Linked DNA regions of Homo sapiens: region 1 is linked to region 2. Evidence: fine-mapped expression QTL. Tissue or cell type: whole blood. Region 2 holds a variant in brackets; the other region holds the start of a gene. All regions are shown on one strand. Distances are between the middles of the regions.

Region 1 (8,088 bases), 71 kb before region 2:
TACAGGCGTGAGCCACTGTGCCCGGCCCAGCCACACATTATTTTCAAATTAATAAATAAGTTAAAATTGCTGGCATGCAGTCATCTTAGCGAAACTGAAGAGTCAAAATGAATAGCTAGAATTCTCTGGGTGATGACCAGAACATATACCATGCTGAGTCCCGATGTGGCCGAAGGACACCGTGAGCTGAGCCAGCTAGCTAGCTTGGTTGTGGTGTGCTGGGAATGAGGGTTATGTTATCTGTGAAAGAGAATACAAATTCTGCAAAGTAAACCTGGCAGTTTGGGGAAAATGTGTTTAACTCACCCACTCCCCTCCTCGTTTGTACTATTGCTTTCCTACACTTTTTTTTTTTTTTTTTTTTTTGAGACAGAGTCTTACTCTGTCACCCAGGTTGGAGTGCAGTGGTGCAATCTCAGCTCACTGCAACCTCTGCCTCCTGGGTTCAAGCAATTCTCCGCCACAGCCTCCCAAGTAGCTGGGATTACAGGTGCATGCTGCCACACCCGGCTAATTTTTGTATTTTTAGTAGAGATGGGGTTTCACCATGTTGGCCAGGCTGGTCTCGAACTCCTGACCTCACGTGATCCGCCCACCTTGGCCTCCCAAAGTGCTGGGATTACAGGTGTGAGCCACCGCGCTGGCCAACTTTCCTACTTTTCAATTTGAGTTTACTCAGGGGTTGGAACATTTATTCCAACAAAATGTGCCTGATGTAACCTCTCAGTGATTAAGCACGCCTGCTTAGTATGCATCAACTTCAGCGCAGTATGTGCACCTCTCTGAGGACATCTCTACTAAGCCCTCAGTGACTGATGCTGCTTCACTTTCTTCAGGTGTATAAATTGAAAAGGCAATTTTTACCTGCTATGAAGTCCCAAGAAAACGGGACTTGGCTCCTTGGGCATATTAGCCTTTAGTCTTGTTAGTGATGATCAGATGTTGCTTGAGCATATTTGGAAAATAACTTTGTATGTTGAAATTTTGGGAAATCAAAGTATTATACTGCAAATCACTTGAAAGAGGGCAAATACCAAATGGTAAAGCTTAGCCAGATGTGATATAATCATTTCACTGAAGATATGAGATAGGTAAAATTTTTTTCTTATAGGTAATGAACACATTTGATTGTAATTTGAGTTAAAGTATTATAGTCCCTTTTAAAAAAAAAGCCCAGAATGTTAAAAGTGTGAACTCCATTTCAGCAAGTTGAAAACATTTGAGTGTTTAAGATATTATCACAGGTCTGCGTATTCCAGGTTCAACTTACTAGGAATTCTGGATTCTAAGTATTTTAAATTGAAGTTAAAGTGAAATCAAGTGTAAATTAATCTGTGATTTTTTTTTCGTTCTGGTTATTTTTAGGTAAATAAATGAGGTCAGGATGTGAGACTGGCGAATAATATATGCTGAGATAACCCATTACTGTGATTGAATTCCAGGAGGAAATTGAAGAGGGGTGATGACGCAAAGGTGAATACAGACAACATGAAAACGGCTAATACATGTTGGGAAACTTTTTTTTTCATTTCTTTTTCTTTTTCTTTTTTTTTTTTTTTTTGAGACGGAGTTTTGCTCTTGTTGCCCAGGCTGGAGTGCAATGGCACGATCTTGGCTCACTGCAACCTCCGCCTCCCCAGGTTCAAGGGATTCTCCTGCCTCAGCCTCCCAAGTAGCTGGGATTACAGGCACCTGCCACCATGCCCAGCTATTTTTTTTCTTTTTTTTTTTTTTAGTACAGACGGGGTTTCACCATGTTGGCTAGGCTGGTCTGGAACTCCTGACCTCAGTCGACCCACCTGCCTCGGCCTCCCAAAGTGCTGGGATTACAGGCGTGAGCCACCGTGCCCAGCCCAAGTGAAAAACTCTTTACCACAATTAATAGGTGAGTTCATTAGGGATGATAGCACACCCTTCAGAAACCGTATTTACTACAGATCTCCCACAACTATCACACTCAATACTAACTAAAAGGCCAGAGGATTGGATTCATATAACTTTTTTAAAAGTACACATATATTTTATAAATATAAGGATATTATTTGCACTAGCAATTTATCTGTATTCCTAAAGTGTCATACAAATGATTCTTGCAAATCTGTTTTAACTAGGGAGAAAACAATGTATTGAGATAGTTGGACTAGACCTATCTACCACTAACACTAAACTTGGAAGAAAAGATCCAAGAGTTCATAGCTTAATTCTAAACCATCTATGCTTCTCACTTGAAAACAGAGAAGGGCTGATGTAAATGAGTTGTGAGGGTATCTGACTACCTTAAAAGCAGAATATTTGAAGGTTTTAGCCCTGGAAGGATTCCTAGGTGAGAAGGCAGCACCTATTTCATATTCTACTTTTGGTTGCCTCCTGGCTTTTGTTTTGTGACCTCAACCAGACTCCTTGTGTAGGTTACAATTTATTTGTGGATGTGAACCCGGGCTCCTTTTGTAGGTTATAGTTTATTTGTGGGTGTGAACCCCCTTCCTTTGCCTGGTTCAATTTCTTCAGTGGTTTAGGAAAGACACCCCTCCAAGCAGTGGCCTGTTTTAAATCCGTAGGCCTCTCTTCCTACCACTCACTTCTTGGCCCAACCCCCCTTCACATTCCTCTGCTTGGGAAGATATTGGGGCAAAAAAGGCCTCATACATTTTTTATTAAGAAACCATTTTCTCTCTAGGATGGGCACAAGGTGCAGGGCTATTTCCTTACATTAGAAGGTATTTTAAAACCTGGGCTGGAGACGCCATGCTGTAAATTTAAAATAAAAAAAAAATGTAAGCCGAACCTTCTTTTTAACCTTAAGAATAGTCTTCACTATTCTCCACCACCTTCCCACCGGCTGTGTAGAAATAACGACCACCAAATGAGAATAGGCTATTTACTCAGAGCTGGCAAGAGTCAGCCGCGACCCATCACTTGATTTAACAGACTCATAGGCAGGCAGGGGAGTGGAAAAGCTTTACATATACTGAAAAAAGGGAGAAACTTCAGGTTGGCTCTGATTGGAGGATGTTGGCATCGGGAAGTTGGAGGAGGGCTATACTAGAAGCAGGGCTTCTTACGCGATTGGTGTGAGGAGCACATTTGGCTTTCTCTGATTGGCCCAGAGCTGGAAGCAGGGGCAAGAAATAGGGAAGCTGCCGGTTAAAGATTAAGTCCTGACCCTTCTGGCCGATTACTGAAGAGGTTATGGGTAGGAGGTCATGGTTAGGTTTGGCCATTCTTTGTATATTCAGTCTCTCAATTGGGTGAGGATTAGATTTTGTTTCTCTTGACCTAGCTAGCTTTTAGCTCCAAAGTTTTGTTTAACTTGGAAGAAGACAGCAGTTCTATTATTTCTGTCAAGGATAAACACAGACATTGGGATCTGAAAAGTATTATGGGAACATACATAAATATCTTCATAGTGAGGGTCAGGCCGGAGAGTCACCCTTTGCCTTAAGCTTCTCCATTTCCTTACTGAATTCCTATTTCTATTATAACTGACGCTTCACTAGCTTCCCTCCCTTTAGTGGAGGGCCCGGCCTCCTCCGCCCCTACTTTCTTCAGTCTTGCCCTTCGAGGGCAGGAGAAGACGGTTGCGCCCTACTAACTCTTCACCTTACAGTCCAGCTTCTCCCCCCACCACCCCGGTGCGCTCTCTCGGTTTGCTACCCTCTCCACCAGGCCTCCCCACTCCACCTGCGCAACGCCCCCAGCTCCGTGCTCTCCGGAGTAATCCCCCCTCAGTCGCACTCTCACAGCCCGGCCCCTGCCCCCGCCTCACCCCCAGTTGTGCCTTCACCTCCCGGTTCCTCCTAGACAGGTCCCCCAAGATACGCCCTCACAGTCCGGTCCCCCGCCGTCCTCTCCCGGCGCACGCTCAAGTCCGGTGCCTTCCCCCCGCAGACCCCCGAGGCGCACCCTCAAGCTCGGTGCCTCTGCGCCCCCCGCAGGGGCGCCCTCAAGCCTGGTACCCTTCACATGAGAGCCCCCCGGGCGCACCCTCAAGCTCGGTGTACCCCCCCATACCACCCGCAGGCGCGCCCTCATGCCCGAAGACTTCCCCCGCCCAGGTGCACCCTCAAGCCCGGTGCCTTCCCCCACAACCAGCGCCCCCAGGCGCACCCTCAAGCCCGGAGCCTACCCGCCGCCAGGCGCGCCCTACAGGCTCGCCCCGTCCCACCGCGCAGCGCCCCCCGCGCACTCTCTGGAGTCCTCCCTCCTGCCTGGTGCGGCCTCCGGGCCCGGTCGGCCCCCCTTCCTGCCCCCACACTCAGACGCGCGCCCGGCGTCTCCGGGTCGCTAGTTCCGCGCCTTCCTGCATGGAGGCGCGCCCCGAGAGGCTCGGACGCGGCCCCTTAGGCCCGGCATCAGCCTCCCCGGCCAGCTGGAGAAGTCAGGTCAGCTTCCTGTCCCCGAGCAGCTGCCCGGGGGCCAGTTTTCAAAACATATCCTTAGTCATGTAATAAAGAGATGTTCCTCTGGTCTCAACTCCCGATTTTTACTTTGGAGGGGCGAAGGCAGGCCTACCCTTGCCAGCCACCATTTCTCAATCACGTCGCGGCTGTGGAAAAGCAGCCGTCCTGTCCCTTCAGAAAGGAACTCGTATTTCCCCCTCGAACTTTTCTCGTCGGTGTGAGAGAAGGGCCCTCCATTTTCTCCTCAGGAAGCTTTCGCGGCCCGACTTCCTCTCACCACCAGGCCAGGAAGGCAGTGACGCCGCGGCGAATATAGCCGCGGCGGCCGAGGTTTCGCCATCTTGAGTGGAGGAGGAGCCGCGGTCGCCGCCATGCGGAGAGGCAGGGAAAGAGGGAGGAGGCGGCGGGCGGGCGAACGGGCGAGCGAGGGAGGGGGCAGAGGAGCCGAGTTAGCTCAGCCAGGCGGCGACTTCGGCGGCGCCACGAGAGCGGGCAGCGGAGGAGGTAGGGCTGGACAGCCGGGGGAGCCGGCGGCTCGGGCGGCTGGCCTGCGCGCCCCTCGGAGCGGGGCGGGGGCGGGGGCGAGAGGAGGCCGTAGCGAGAGGGCTGGGTGGGGGCGGGCGGAGGTTTCCGAGGAGGAAGGAGCGTCCGCCATTTTGGGAGCTTCGAGTCAACAATAAAGGACCGAGGGTGCCGAGCGGGAGTGGCCTCGTTGGTAGGACACGGGCCCGAGTCGCGAGGCTTGGGGTGAGGTGGTGGGGTCGAGGTCAGCGGTGCTTTGGGGGCTGTGGGGAGCCCCCCGGGCCGGCTCTGGGGGACTCTCGGGCGGAGGCCTAAGGCCTGGCCGGGCCTGGGGAGGAAGGCGGTCGGCAGCTGTGTGGGGTGGGAGCGCCTGAGAGGAGGCGAATATAGGAATGTGGTGCGCAGCAGGGTCGGCAGGAGGAACAGGCTAAGTACTCGGAGTAGCTTTATCGAAGATGAGGGAATATGAGGCCGAAGGGGGCGGCAAGGACTTAGGGGGATGATGGTGGAGGTTATAGGGTACGAGGCGGCCCTATAGGGGGCGGCAGGGACATGCTGTATTGGAGGGCTCGGTTTAGAAGCAAACCGGCCGCTGCTTGATTGCAGTAGGCCTTGCGGGTCAATAACAAGAGGGTATTTATGGAGCCCCCGACTCTTGGAGGAAAGGAGGGGGATTTCTGGTTTAGGGGGTCCATTTGGGGCCTCCTTGGGGGAGTCCCTATTGTTTGCTACTAATGGAGCGGTTGCTGGCTCATATTGCGCAGATAAGATTGCAGAGCCCCAACCTTTTGTGTTTATGGTCAGAAGTGTGTGTGTTTGGGGCGTGGGGCGGGGTGCGGGGGGACAAGAAATTTCCTTTCAGTTACGGGGTTCCAGTCATTAGTCAATGACTCTTTCCCGTATCTCTCTCCTTTCTCTTCCTCAGCCCCCATTTCCCTTCAGAATAAAACCCAGTCACTCCAACTTGCAGGCAAAGCTAGAAAAACTGCGCTGCATTTGCAAACAAAAGCTCTTGTTGGCGATGACGATACTGTTTTGGGTGTGAAACTGTCAATTGCTAACTACGATCTGTGAAGTGCTGTAATTAACTCCGCTAGGGGCTCCTCCCAACTAGTCTACGTTTCTTGTTGTTTGTTTTTTGTTTTTTTGTTTTTTGTTTTTGAAAATGTAGAAAACTTGCAAATCTAAATTGGGAAGGGGTAGGAGGAATATTTCCTTCTCTGAGAAAAAGCTGCAGTGCAGGTTTCAGTTTAAGAAGGGAGCAGTTATCACATAGTCTCATTTTGGATTTAAGGATATAGGAGGTCTTACTGTGCATGATGGACAGTAATGATGATATCGTTCGGTCTTTAGAGGTTGCCCTTTTCATCCTCTTAGTGCTCTGCAAACAGCTAAGTCTCTGTGAACTGCGTGATATCGCTGATCATAATATAAAACCGTCAATACAGGAAAGTAGCTGTTAACCATATCTGCTTAAGAGGTCAGAGTCTGAAGTAAACAGCTTTGTGTATGTGATAATCAGGATTTGCTTGTGAGCAACTTGTTCATTTTTTTTTTAAGGAAGGCATAATCAAGGAGCATTTTCTTCATAAATGTTGAGATCTGTTGACTTTAAAATTTTGAGTTTCACATGCCTTGGTGTATGGCAGAAAGAATCAGCACTCGTAAGCTAGTGTATTTTATATAAGAAATGTAACGGGGTTGCTGGGAGCGGTGGCTCACACCTGTAATCCCAGCACTTTGGGAGGCCAAGACAGGCGGATCAGCTGAGGTCAGGAGTTCGATACTAGCCTGGCCAACATGGCAAAACCCCGTCTCTACTAAAAATAGAAAAAATTTAGCTGCGCGTGGTGGCAGGCGCCTGTAATCCCAGCTACTCGGGAGGCTGAGACAGGGGAATCGCTTGAACCCAGGAGGCGGCGGTTGCAGTGAGCCAAGATTGTGCCACTGCACTCCAACCTGGGCGGCAGAGCGAGACTCCGCCTCAAAAAAAAAAAAAAAAAAAAAGTGTAACGGGGTTAAATCAAAAGCCAACAGAGTAGGGCTTTGTTTTCGTGTCTTTGTATGTTTTTATTAACTCCAATTAAAAGTAAGATTTCAGCCGGGCACGGTGGCTCTCGCCTGTAATCCTAGCACTTTAGGAGGCTAAGGCGGGCAGATCATTTGAGGTTAGGAGTCCAAGACCAGCCTGGCCAACTTGATAACACCCCGTGTCTACTGAAAAATACAGAAATTAGCCAGACCTGTAATCCCACCAAGCTACTTGGGAGGCTAAGGCATGAGGATCGCTTGAACCTGCGTGGTGGAGGTTGCAGTGAGCTGAGATCGGGCTACTGCACTCCACTCTGGGCAACAGAGTGAGACTCTGTCTCAAAAATAATAGGCCGGGCGTGGTGGCTTACGTCTGTAATCCCAGCACTTTGGGAGGCCGAGGCGGGCGGATCACCTGAGCTCAGTTGTTCAAGACCAGCCTGGCCAACATGTCGAAACCCCGTCTTTACTAAAAATACAAAAATTAGCTGGGCATGGTGGCGCATGCCCGTAATCCCAGCTACTCAGGAGGCTGAGGCAGGAGAATGGCGTGAACCCAGGAGGCGGAGCTTGCAGTGAGCTGAGAGCGCGCCATTGCACTCCAGCCTGGGTGACAGTGCAAGATTCTGTCTCAAAAAATACAATAAAAAATAAAAGTAAGTAAGATTTCCATTTACGGGATAATTTTAAACTGAGGTTGACTAGTTTTGTGGGTTTTGTTTGTTTGTTTGCTTTGTTTGTTTTTAAGTCAGAGTATTGCTCTTGTTGCCCAGGCTGGAGTACAATGGCATGATCTGGACTCACTGCAGCCTCCACCTCCTGGGTTCAAGTGATTCTGCTGCCTCAGCCTCCTAAGTAGCTGAGATTACAGGGCCACCACGCCCAGTTAATTTTTGTATTTTAGTGGAACGGAGTTTCACCGTGTTGGTCAGGTGGTCTTGAACTCCTGACCTCAGGTGATCCACCAGTCTTGGCCTCCCAAAGTGTTGGGATTACAGGCGTGAGCTACCGTGCCCCTCCTACCAGTTCTTTTTTTTTTTTTTAAACTATTAATTAGCTTTACTACTCTGGATTTCTTGGAAAGTTTTCTTAAAATTACTAGTGTGTTTAGTCTTCCGCGGATTTTTTTTTAAAC
Region 2 (8,101 bases):
AGTTAAACCAGCTATTCAATTTATTACAACAAACTGTAAGAAAAAGAAATTTCCCATTTTATATTACTCATATTCAAGCACACACTAATTTACCAGGGCCTTTGACTAAAGCAAATGAACAAGCTGACTTACTGGTATCATCTGCATTCATAAAAGCACAAGAACTTCATGCTTTGACTCATGCAAATGCAGCAGGATTAAAAAACAAATTTGATGTCACATGGAAACAGGCAAAAGATATTGTACAACATTGCACCCAGTGTCAGGTCTTACACCTGCCCACTCAAGAGGCAGGAGTTAATCCCAGAGGTCTGTGTCCTAATGCGTTATGGCAAATGGATGTCACGCATGTTCCTTCATTTGGAAGATTATCATATGTTCATGTAACAGTTGATACTTTTCACATTTCATATGGGCAGCTTGCCAAACAGGAGAAAGTACTTCCCATGTTAAAAAACATTTATTGTCTTGTTTTGCTGTCATGGGAGTTCCAGAAAAAATCAAAACTGACAATGGACCAGGATATTGTAGTAAAGCTTTCCAAAAATTCTTAAGTCAGTGGAAAATTTCACATACAACAGGAATTCCTTATAATTCCCAAGGACAGGCCATAGTTGAAAGAACTAATAGAACACTCAAAACTCAATTAGTTAAACAAAAAGAAGGGGGAGACAGTAAGGAGTGTACCACTCCTCAGATGCAACTTAATCTAGCACTCTATACTTTAAATTTTTTTAAACATTTATAGAAATCAGACTACTACTTCTGCAGAACAACATCTTACTGGTAAAAAGAACAGCCCACATGAAGGAAAACTAATTTGGTGGAAAGATAATAAAAATAAGACATGGGAAATAGGGAAGGTGATAACGTGGGGGAGAGGTTTGCTTGTGTTTCACCAGGAGAAAATCAGCTTCCTGTTTGGATACCCACTAGACATTTGAAGTTCTACAATGAACCCATCGGAGATGCAAAGAAAAGGGCCTCCACAGAGATGGTAACACCAGTCACATGGATGGATAATCCTATAGAAGTATATGTTAATGATAGTGTACGGGTACCTGGCCCCACAGACGATCGCTGCCCTATCAAACCTGAGGAAGAAGGGATAATGATAAATATTTCCACTGGGTATCGTTATCCTATTTGCCTAGGGAGAGCACCAGGATGTTTAATACATGCAGTCCAAAATTGGTTGGTAGAAGTACCTACTGTCAGTCCTAACGGTAGATTCACTTATCACATGGTAAGCGGGATGTCACTCAGGCCACGAGTAAATTATTTACAGGACTTTTCTTATCAAAGATCATTAAAATTTAGACCTAAAGGAAAACCTTGCCCCAAGGAAATTCCCAAAGAATCAAAAAATACAGAAGTTTTAGTTTGGGAAGAATGTGTGGCCAATAGTGCGGTGATATTACAAAACAATGAATTCGGAACTATTATAGATTGGGCACCTCGAGGTCAATTCGATCACAATTGCTCAGGACAAACTCAGTTGTGTCCAAGTGCACAAGTGAGTCCAGCTGTTGATAGCGACTTAACAGAAAGTCTAGACAAACATAAGCATAAAAAATTACAGTCTTTGTACCCTTGGGAATGGGGAGAAAAAGGAATCTCTACCCCAAGACCAAAAATAATAAGTCCTGTTTCTGGTCCTGAACATCCAGAATTATGGAGGCTTATTGTGGCCTCACACCACATTAGAATTTGGTCTGGAAATCAAACTTCAGAAACAAGAGATCGTAAGCCATTTTATACTATCGACCTAAATTCCAGTCTAACGGTTCCTTTACAGAGTTGCGTAAAGCCCCCTTATATGCTAGTTGTAGGAAATATAGTTATTAAACCAGACTCCCAAACTATAACCTGTGAAAATTGTAGATTGTTTACTTGCATTGATTCAACTTTTAATTGGCAGCAGCGTATTCTGCTGGTGAGAGCAAGAGAAGGCGTGTGGATCCCTGTGTCCATGGACAGACCGTGGGAGGCCTCGCCATCCATCCATATTTTGACTGAAGTATTAAAAGGCATTTTAAATAGATCCAAAAGATTCATTTTTACTTTAATTGCAGTGATTATGGGATTAATTGCAGTCACAGCTACGGCTGCTGTGGCAGGAGTTGCATTGCACTCTTCTGTTCAGTCGGTAAACTTTGTTAATGATTGGCAAAAGAATTCTGCAAGATTGTGGAATTCACAATCTAGTATTGATCAAAAATTGGCAAATCAAATTAATCATCTTAGACAAACTCATTTGGATAGGAGACAGACTCATGAGCTTAGAACGTCGTTTCCAGTTACAGTGTGACTGCAATACGTCAGACTTTTGTATTACACCCCAAATTTATAATGAGTCTGAGCATCACTGGGACATGGTTAGACACCATCTACAGGGAAGAGAAGATAATCTCACTTTAGACATTTCCAAATTAAAAGAAAAAATTTTTGAAGCATCAAAAGCCCATTTAAATTTGGTGCCAGGAACTGAGGCAATTGCAGGAGTTGCTGATGGCCTCGCAAATCTTAACCCTGTCACTTGGGTTAAGACCATCGGAAGTACTACAATTATAAATCTCATATTAATCCTTGTGTGCCTGTTTTGTCTGTTGTTAGTCTGCAGGTGTACCCAACAGCTCCGAAGAGACAGCGACCATCGAGAATGGGCCATGATGACGATGGCGGTTTTGTCGAAAAGAAAAGGGGGAAATGTGGGGAAAAGCAAGAGAGATCAGATTGTTACTGTGTCTGTATAGAAAGAAGTAGACATAGGAGACTCCATTTTGTTCTGTACTAAGAAAAATTCTTCTGCCTTGAGATGCTGTTAATCTATGACCTTACCCCCAACCCCGTGCTCTCTGAAACATGTGCTGTGTCAAACTCAGGGTTAAATGGATTAAGGGTTGTGCAAGATGTGCTTTGTTAAACAAATGCTTGAAGGCAGCATGCTCTTTAAGAGTCATCACCACTCCCTAATCTCAAGTACCCAGGGACACAAACACTGCGGAAGGCCGCAGGGACCTCTGCCTAGGAAAGCCAGGTATTGTCCAAGGTTTCTCCCCATGTGATAGTCTGAAATATGGCCTCGTGGGAAGGGAAAGACCTGACCGTCCCCCAGCCCGACACCCATAAAGGGTCTGTGTGAGGAGGATTAGTATAAGAGGAAGGCATGCCTCTTGCAGTTGAGACAAGAGGAAGGCGTCTGTCTCCTGCCCGTCCCTGGACAATGGAATGTCTCGGTATAAAACCCGATTGTACGTTCCATCTACTGAGATAGGGAAAAACGCCTTAGGGCTGGAGGTGGGACATGCGGGCAGCAATACTGCTTTGTAAAGCATTGAGATGTTTATGTGTATGCATATCTAAGAGCACAGCACTTAATCCTTTACCTCGTCTATGATGCAAAGACCTTTGTTCACGTGTTTGTCTGCTGACCCTCTCCCCACTATTGTCTTGTGACCCTGACACATCCCCCTCTCGGAGAAACACCCACGAATGATCAATAAATACTAAGGGAACTCAGAGGCTGGCGGGATCCTCCATATGCTGAACGCTGGTTCCCCGGGTCCCCTTATTTCTTTCTCTATACTTTGTCTCTGTGTCTTTTTCTTTTCCAAGTCTCTCGTTCCACCTTACGAGAAACACCCACAGGTGTGGAGGGGCAACCCACCCCTTCAAGCCTCTGCTCCTCCACCCTATAATTCTTTTATCACCTCCCCTCCACACACCCGTCCGGCTTACAGTTTCATTCCGTGACTAGCCCTCCCCCACCTGCCCAGCAATTTACTCTTAAAAAGGTGGCTGGAGCTAAAGGCATAGTCAAGGTTAATGCTCCTTTTTCTTTATCCCAAATCAGATAGCGTTTAGGCTCTTTTTCATCAAATATAAAAAACCCAGCCCAGTTCATGGCTCGTTCGGCAGCAACCCTGAGATGCTTTACAGCCCTAGACCTAAAAGGTCAAAAGGCTGTATTATTCTCAATATACATTTTATTACTCAATCTGCTCCCGACATTAAATAAAACTCCAAAAATTAAATTCCAGCCCTCAAACCCCACAACAGGATTTAATTAACCTCACCTTCAAGGTGTACAATAATAGAAAAAAGTCGCAATTCCTTGCCTTTACTGTGAGACAAACCCCAGCCACATCTCCAGCCCACAAGAACTTCCAAACGCCTAAACCGCAGTGGCCAGGCGTTCCTCCAGAACCTCCTCCCCCAGGAACTTGCTACAAGTGCCAGAAATCTGACCACCAGGCCGAGGAATGCCTGCAGCCCAGGATTCCTCCTAAGCCGTGTCCCATCTGCGCGGGACCCCACTGGAAATCGGACTGTTCAACTCACCTGGCAGCCACTCCCAGAACCCCTGGAATTCTGGCCCAAGGCTCTCTGACTGACTCCTTCTCGGCTTAGCAGCTGAAGACTGATGCTGCCTGATCGCCTTGGAAGCCCCGTAGACCATCGCGGATGCCGAGCTTTAAGTAA[T/CT]CTCACAGTGGAGGGTAAGTCCTTCCCCTTCTTAGTCAATACGGAGGCTACCCACTCCACATTACCTACTTTTCAAAGGCCTGTTTCCCTTGCCTCCATAACTGCTGTGCGTATTGACAGCCAGACTTCTAAACCTCTTAAAACTCCCCAACCCTGCTGCCAATTTAGACAATACTCTTTTGAGCACTCCTTTTAGTTATCCCCACCTGCCCAGTTCCCTTATTAGGCTGAGACACTTTAACTAAATGATCTGCTTCCCTGACTATTCCTGGATTACAGCTGCATCTTATTGCTGCCCTTCTTCCCAATCCAAAGCCTCCTTTGCGTCCTCCTCTTGTATTCCCCCACCTTAACCCACAAGTATAAGATACCTCTACTCCCTCCTTGGTGACCAATCATGCACCCCTTACCATCTCATTAAAACCTAATCACCCTCACACGGCTCAATGCCAATATCCCATCCCACAGCATGCTTTGAAAGGATTAAAGCCTGTTATCACTCGCCTGCTACAGCATGGCCTTCTAAAGCCTATAAACTCTCCTTACAATTCCCCCATTTTACCTGTCCTAAAACCAGACAAGCCTTACAAGTTAGTTCAGGATCTATGCCTTATCAACCAAATTGTTTTGCCTATCCACCCCATGGTGCTAAACCCATATACTCTCCTATCCTCAATACCTCTCTCCACAATCCATTACTCTGTACTGGATCTCAAACGTGCTTTCTTTACTATTCCTTTGCACCCGTCATCCCAGCCTCTCTTCGCTTCACTTGGACTGACTCTGACACCCATCAGGCTCAGCAAATTACCTGGGCTGTACTGCCACAAGGCTTCACAGACAGCCCCCATTACTTCAGTCAAGCCCAAATTTCATCCTCATCTGTTACCTATCTCGGCATAATTCTCATAAAAACACACGTGCTCTCCCTGTTAATCATGTCTGATTAATCTCCCAAACCTCAATCCCTTACAAAACAACAACTCCTTTCCTTCCTAGGCATGGTTAGTGCGGTCAGAATTCTTACACAAGAGCCAGGACCGCACCCTGTAGCCTTTCTGTGCAAACAACTTGACCTTACTGTTTTAGCCTAGCCCTCATGTCTCCGTGCAGCGGCTGCTGCCGCCCTAATACTTTTAGAGGCCCTCAAAATCACAAACTATGCTCAACTTACTCTCTACATTTCTCATAACTTCCAAAATCTATTTTCTTCCTCATACCTGACGCATATACTTTCTGCTCCCTGGCTCCTTCAGCTGTACTCACTCGTTGTTAAGTCCCACAATTACCATTGTTCCTGGCCCGGACTTCAATCCGGCCTCCCACATTATTCCTGATACCACACCTGACCCCCATGACTGTATCTCTCTGATCCACCTGACATTCACCCAATTTCCCCATATTTCCTTCTTTCCTGTTCCTCACCCTGATCACGCTTGATTTATTGATGGTGGTTTCCACCAGGCCTAATCGCCACACACCAGCAAAGGCAGGTTATGCTATAGTACAAGCCACTAGCCGGCCTCTTAGAACCTCCCATTTCCTTTCCATCGTGGAAATCTATCCTCAAGGAAATAACTTCTCAGTGTTCCATCTGCTATTCTACTATCCCTCAGGGATTATTCAGGCCCCCTCCCTTCCCTACACATCAAGCTCGAGGATTTGCCCCCACCCAGGACTGGCAAATTAGCTTTACTCAACATGCCCCGAGTCAGATAACTAAAATACCTCTTAGTCTAGGTAGACACTTTCACTGAATAGGTACAGACCTTTCCTACAGGGTCTGAGAAGGCCACCGCAGTCATTTCTTCCCTTCTGTCAGACATAATTCCTCAGTTTAGTCTTCCCACCTCTATACAGTCTGTTAACAGACCAGCCTTTATTAGTCAAATCAGCCAAGCAGGTTTTCAGGCTCTTAGTATTCAGTGAAACCTTTATATCCCTTACTGTCCTGTGTCTTCAGGAAAAGTAGAACGGACTAAAGGTCTTTTAAAAACACACCTCACCAAGCTCAGCCACCAACTTAAAAAGGACTGGACAATACTTTTACCACTTTCCCTTCTCAGAAGTCAGACATGTCCTCAGAATGCTACAAGGTACAGCCCATTTGAGCTCCTGTATAGATGCTCCTTTTTATTAGGCCCCAGTCTCATTCCAGACATCAGACCAACTTCCACCGTGCCCCCAAAAAAACTTGTCATCCCTACTATCTTCTGTCTAGTCATACTCCTATTCACCGTTCTCAACTACTCATACATGCTCTGCTCTTGTTTACACTGCCGGTTTACACTGTTTCTCTAAGCCATCACAGCTGATATCTCCTGGTGCTATCCCCAAACTGCCACTCTTACCTCTTGAAGTAAATAAATAATCTTTGCTGGCAGGACTATGCTGAATCTCCTTAGGCACTCTCTAATCAGATGTCCTGAGTCGTCCCAATTCTTAGACCTTTTATACCTGTTTTTCTCCTTCTCTTATTCCATTTAGTTTTTCAATTCATACAAAACTGTATCCAGGCCATCACCAATAATTCTAAATGACAAATGTTTCTTCTAACAACCCCACAATATCACCCCTTACCACAAAATCTTCCTTCAGCTTAATCTCTCCCACTCTAGGTTCCCACGCCACCCCTAATCCCGCTCGAAGCAGCCCTGAGAAACATCCCCCATTATCTCTCCATACCATCCCCCAAAATTTTCGCCATCCCAACACTTTACCACTATTTCATTTTATTTTTCTTATTAATATAAGAAGACAGGAATGTCAGCCCTCTGGGCCCAAGCTAAGCCATCATATCCCCTGTGACCTGCACGTACACATCCAGATGGCTGGTTGCTGCCTTAACTGATGACAATCCACCACAAAAGAAGTGAAAATGGCCCGTTCCTGCCTTAACTGATGACATTGTCTTGTGAAATTCCTTCTCCTGGCTCATCCTGGCTCAAAAGCTCCCCCACTGAGCACCTTGTGACCCCCACTCCTGCCTGCCAGAGAACAACCCCCTTTGACTGTAATTTTCCTTTATCTACCCAAATCTTATAAAATGGCCCCACCCCTATCTCTCTTCACTGACTCTCTTTTTGGACTCAGCCTGCCTGCACCCAAGTGATTAAAAGCTTTATTGCTCACACAAAGCCTGTTTGGTGGTCTCTTTACACGGACGTGCATGAAAGTGGCCGGGCACAGTGGCTCAGGCCTGTAATCCCAGCACTTTGGGAGGCCGAGGCAGCTGGATCACAAAGTCAGGAGTTTGAGACTAGCCTGACCAACATGGTGAAACCCTGTCTCTACTAAAAATACAAAAATTAGCCGAGTGTGGTGGCATGCACCTGTAATCCCAGCTACTCAGGAAGCTGAGGCAGGAGAATCGCTTGAACCTGGGAGGCGGAGGTTGCAGTGAGCCAAGATCACGCTATTGCACTCCAGCCTGGGTGACAGAGAGAGACGCCATCTCAAAAAATAAAAATAAAAAGTAAAGGGGAAAAAGCAGGCAGGAGGGGAAAGGGAACATTAAAAAAAAAAAAAAGAGGGAGGATATGGTCACTTTGTTTTGCGGCTTTGTTTAAGCTCACTGAATCCACATGTTGCACAGGAAAAAAAGGGAGTAGAAGGC

The links. PIP is the estimated chance that this variant, and not a neighbour inherited with it, causes the effect.
Region 1: DDX6 starts here. The variant in region 2 is fine-mapped to the expression of DDX6 in whole blood (TOPMed, PIP above 0.99). The same link has a PIP of 0.9 or more in blood mononuclear cells, nasal epithelium and tibial nerve.

The regions. Positions count from the first base shown.
Region 1 is chr11:118,787,914-118,796,001 of GRCh38, reverse strand. It overlaps DDX6 (DEAD-box helicase 6), which reads left to right and starts at 4,838. Exons shown (of 14, transcript NM_004397.6): 1 at 4,838-4,904. RefSeq lists enhancers at 2,953-3,062, 3,451-4,006, 4,623-4,732, 6,043-6,222, 5,681-6,238 and silencers at 4,063-4,352, 4,803-5,132, 5,763-5,842.
Region 2 is chr11:118,716,591-118,724,691 of GRCh38, reverse strand. It overlaps LOC124902766 (endogenous retrovirus group K member 7 Env polyprotein-like), which reads left to right. Exons shown (of 3, transcript XR_007062912.1): 1 at 1-997; 2 at 2,617-4,499. Among named protein-coding and RNA genes, the nearest start is that of TREH, 41 kb to the right of the region's middle. RefSeq lists enhancers at 2,802-3,542, 4,283-5,024, 5,063-5,868, 6,677-7,482, 7,483-8,101. The variant T/CT (reference allele first, on the strand shown) is at 4,486.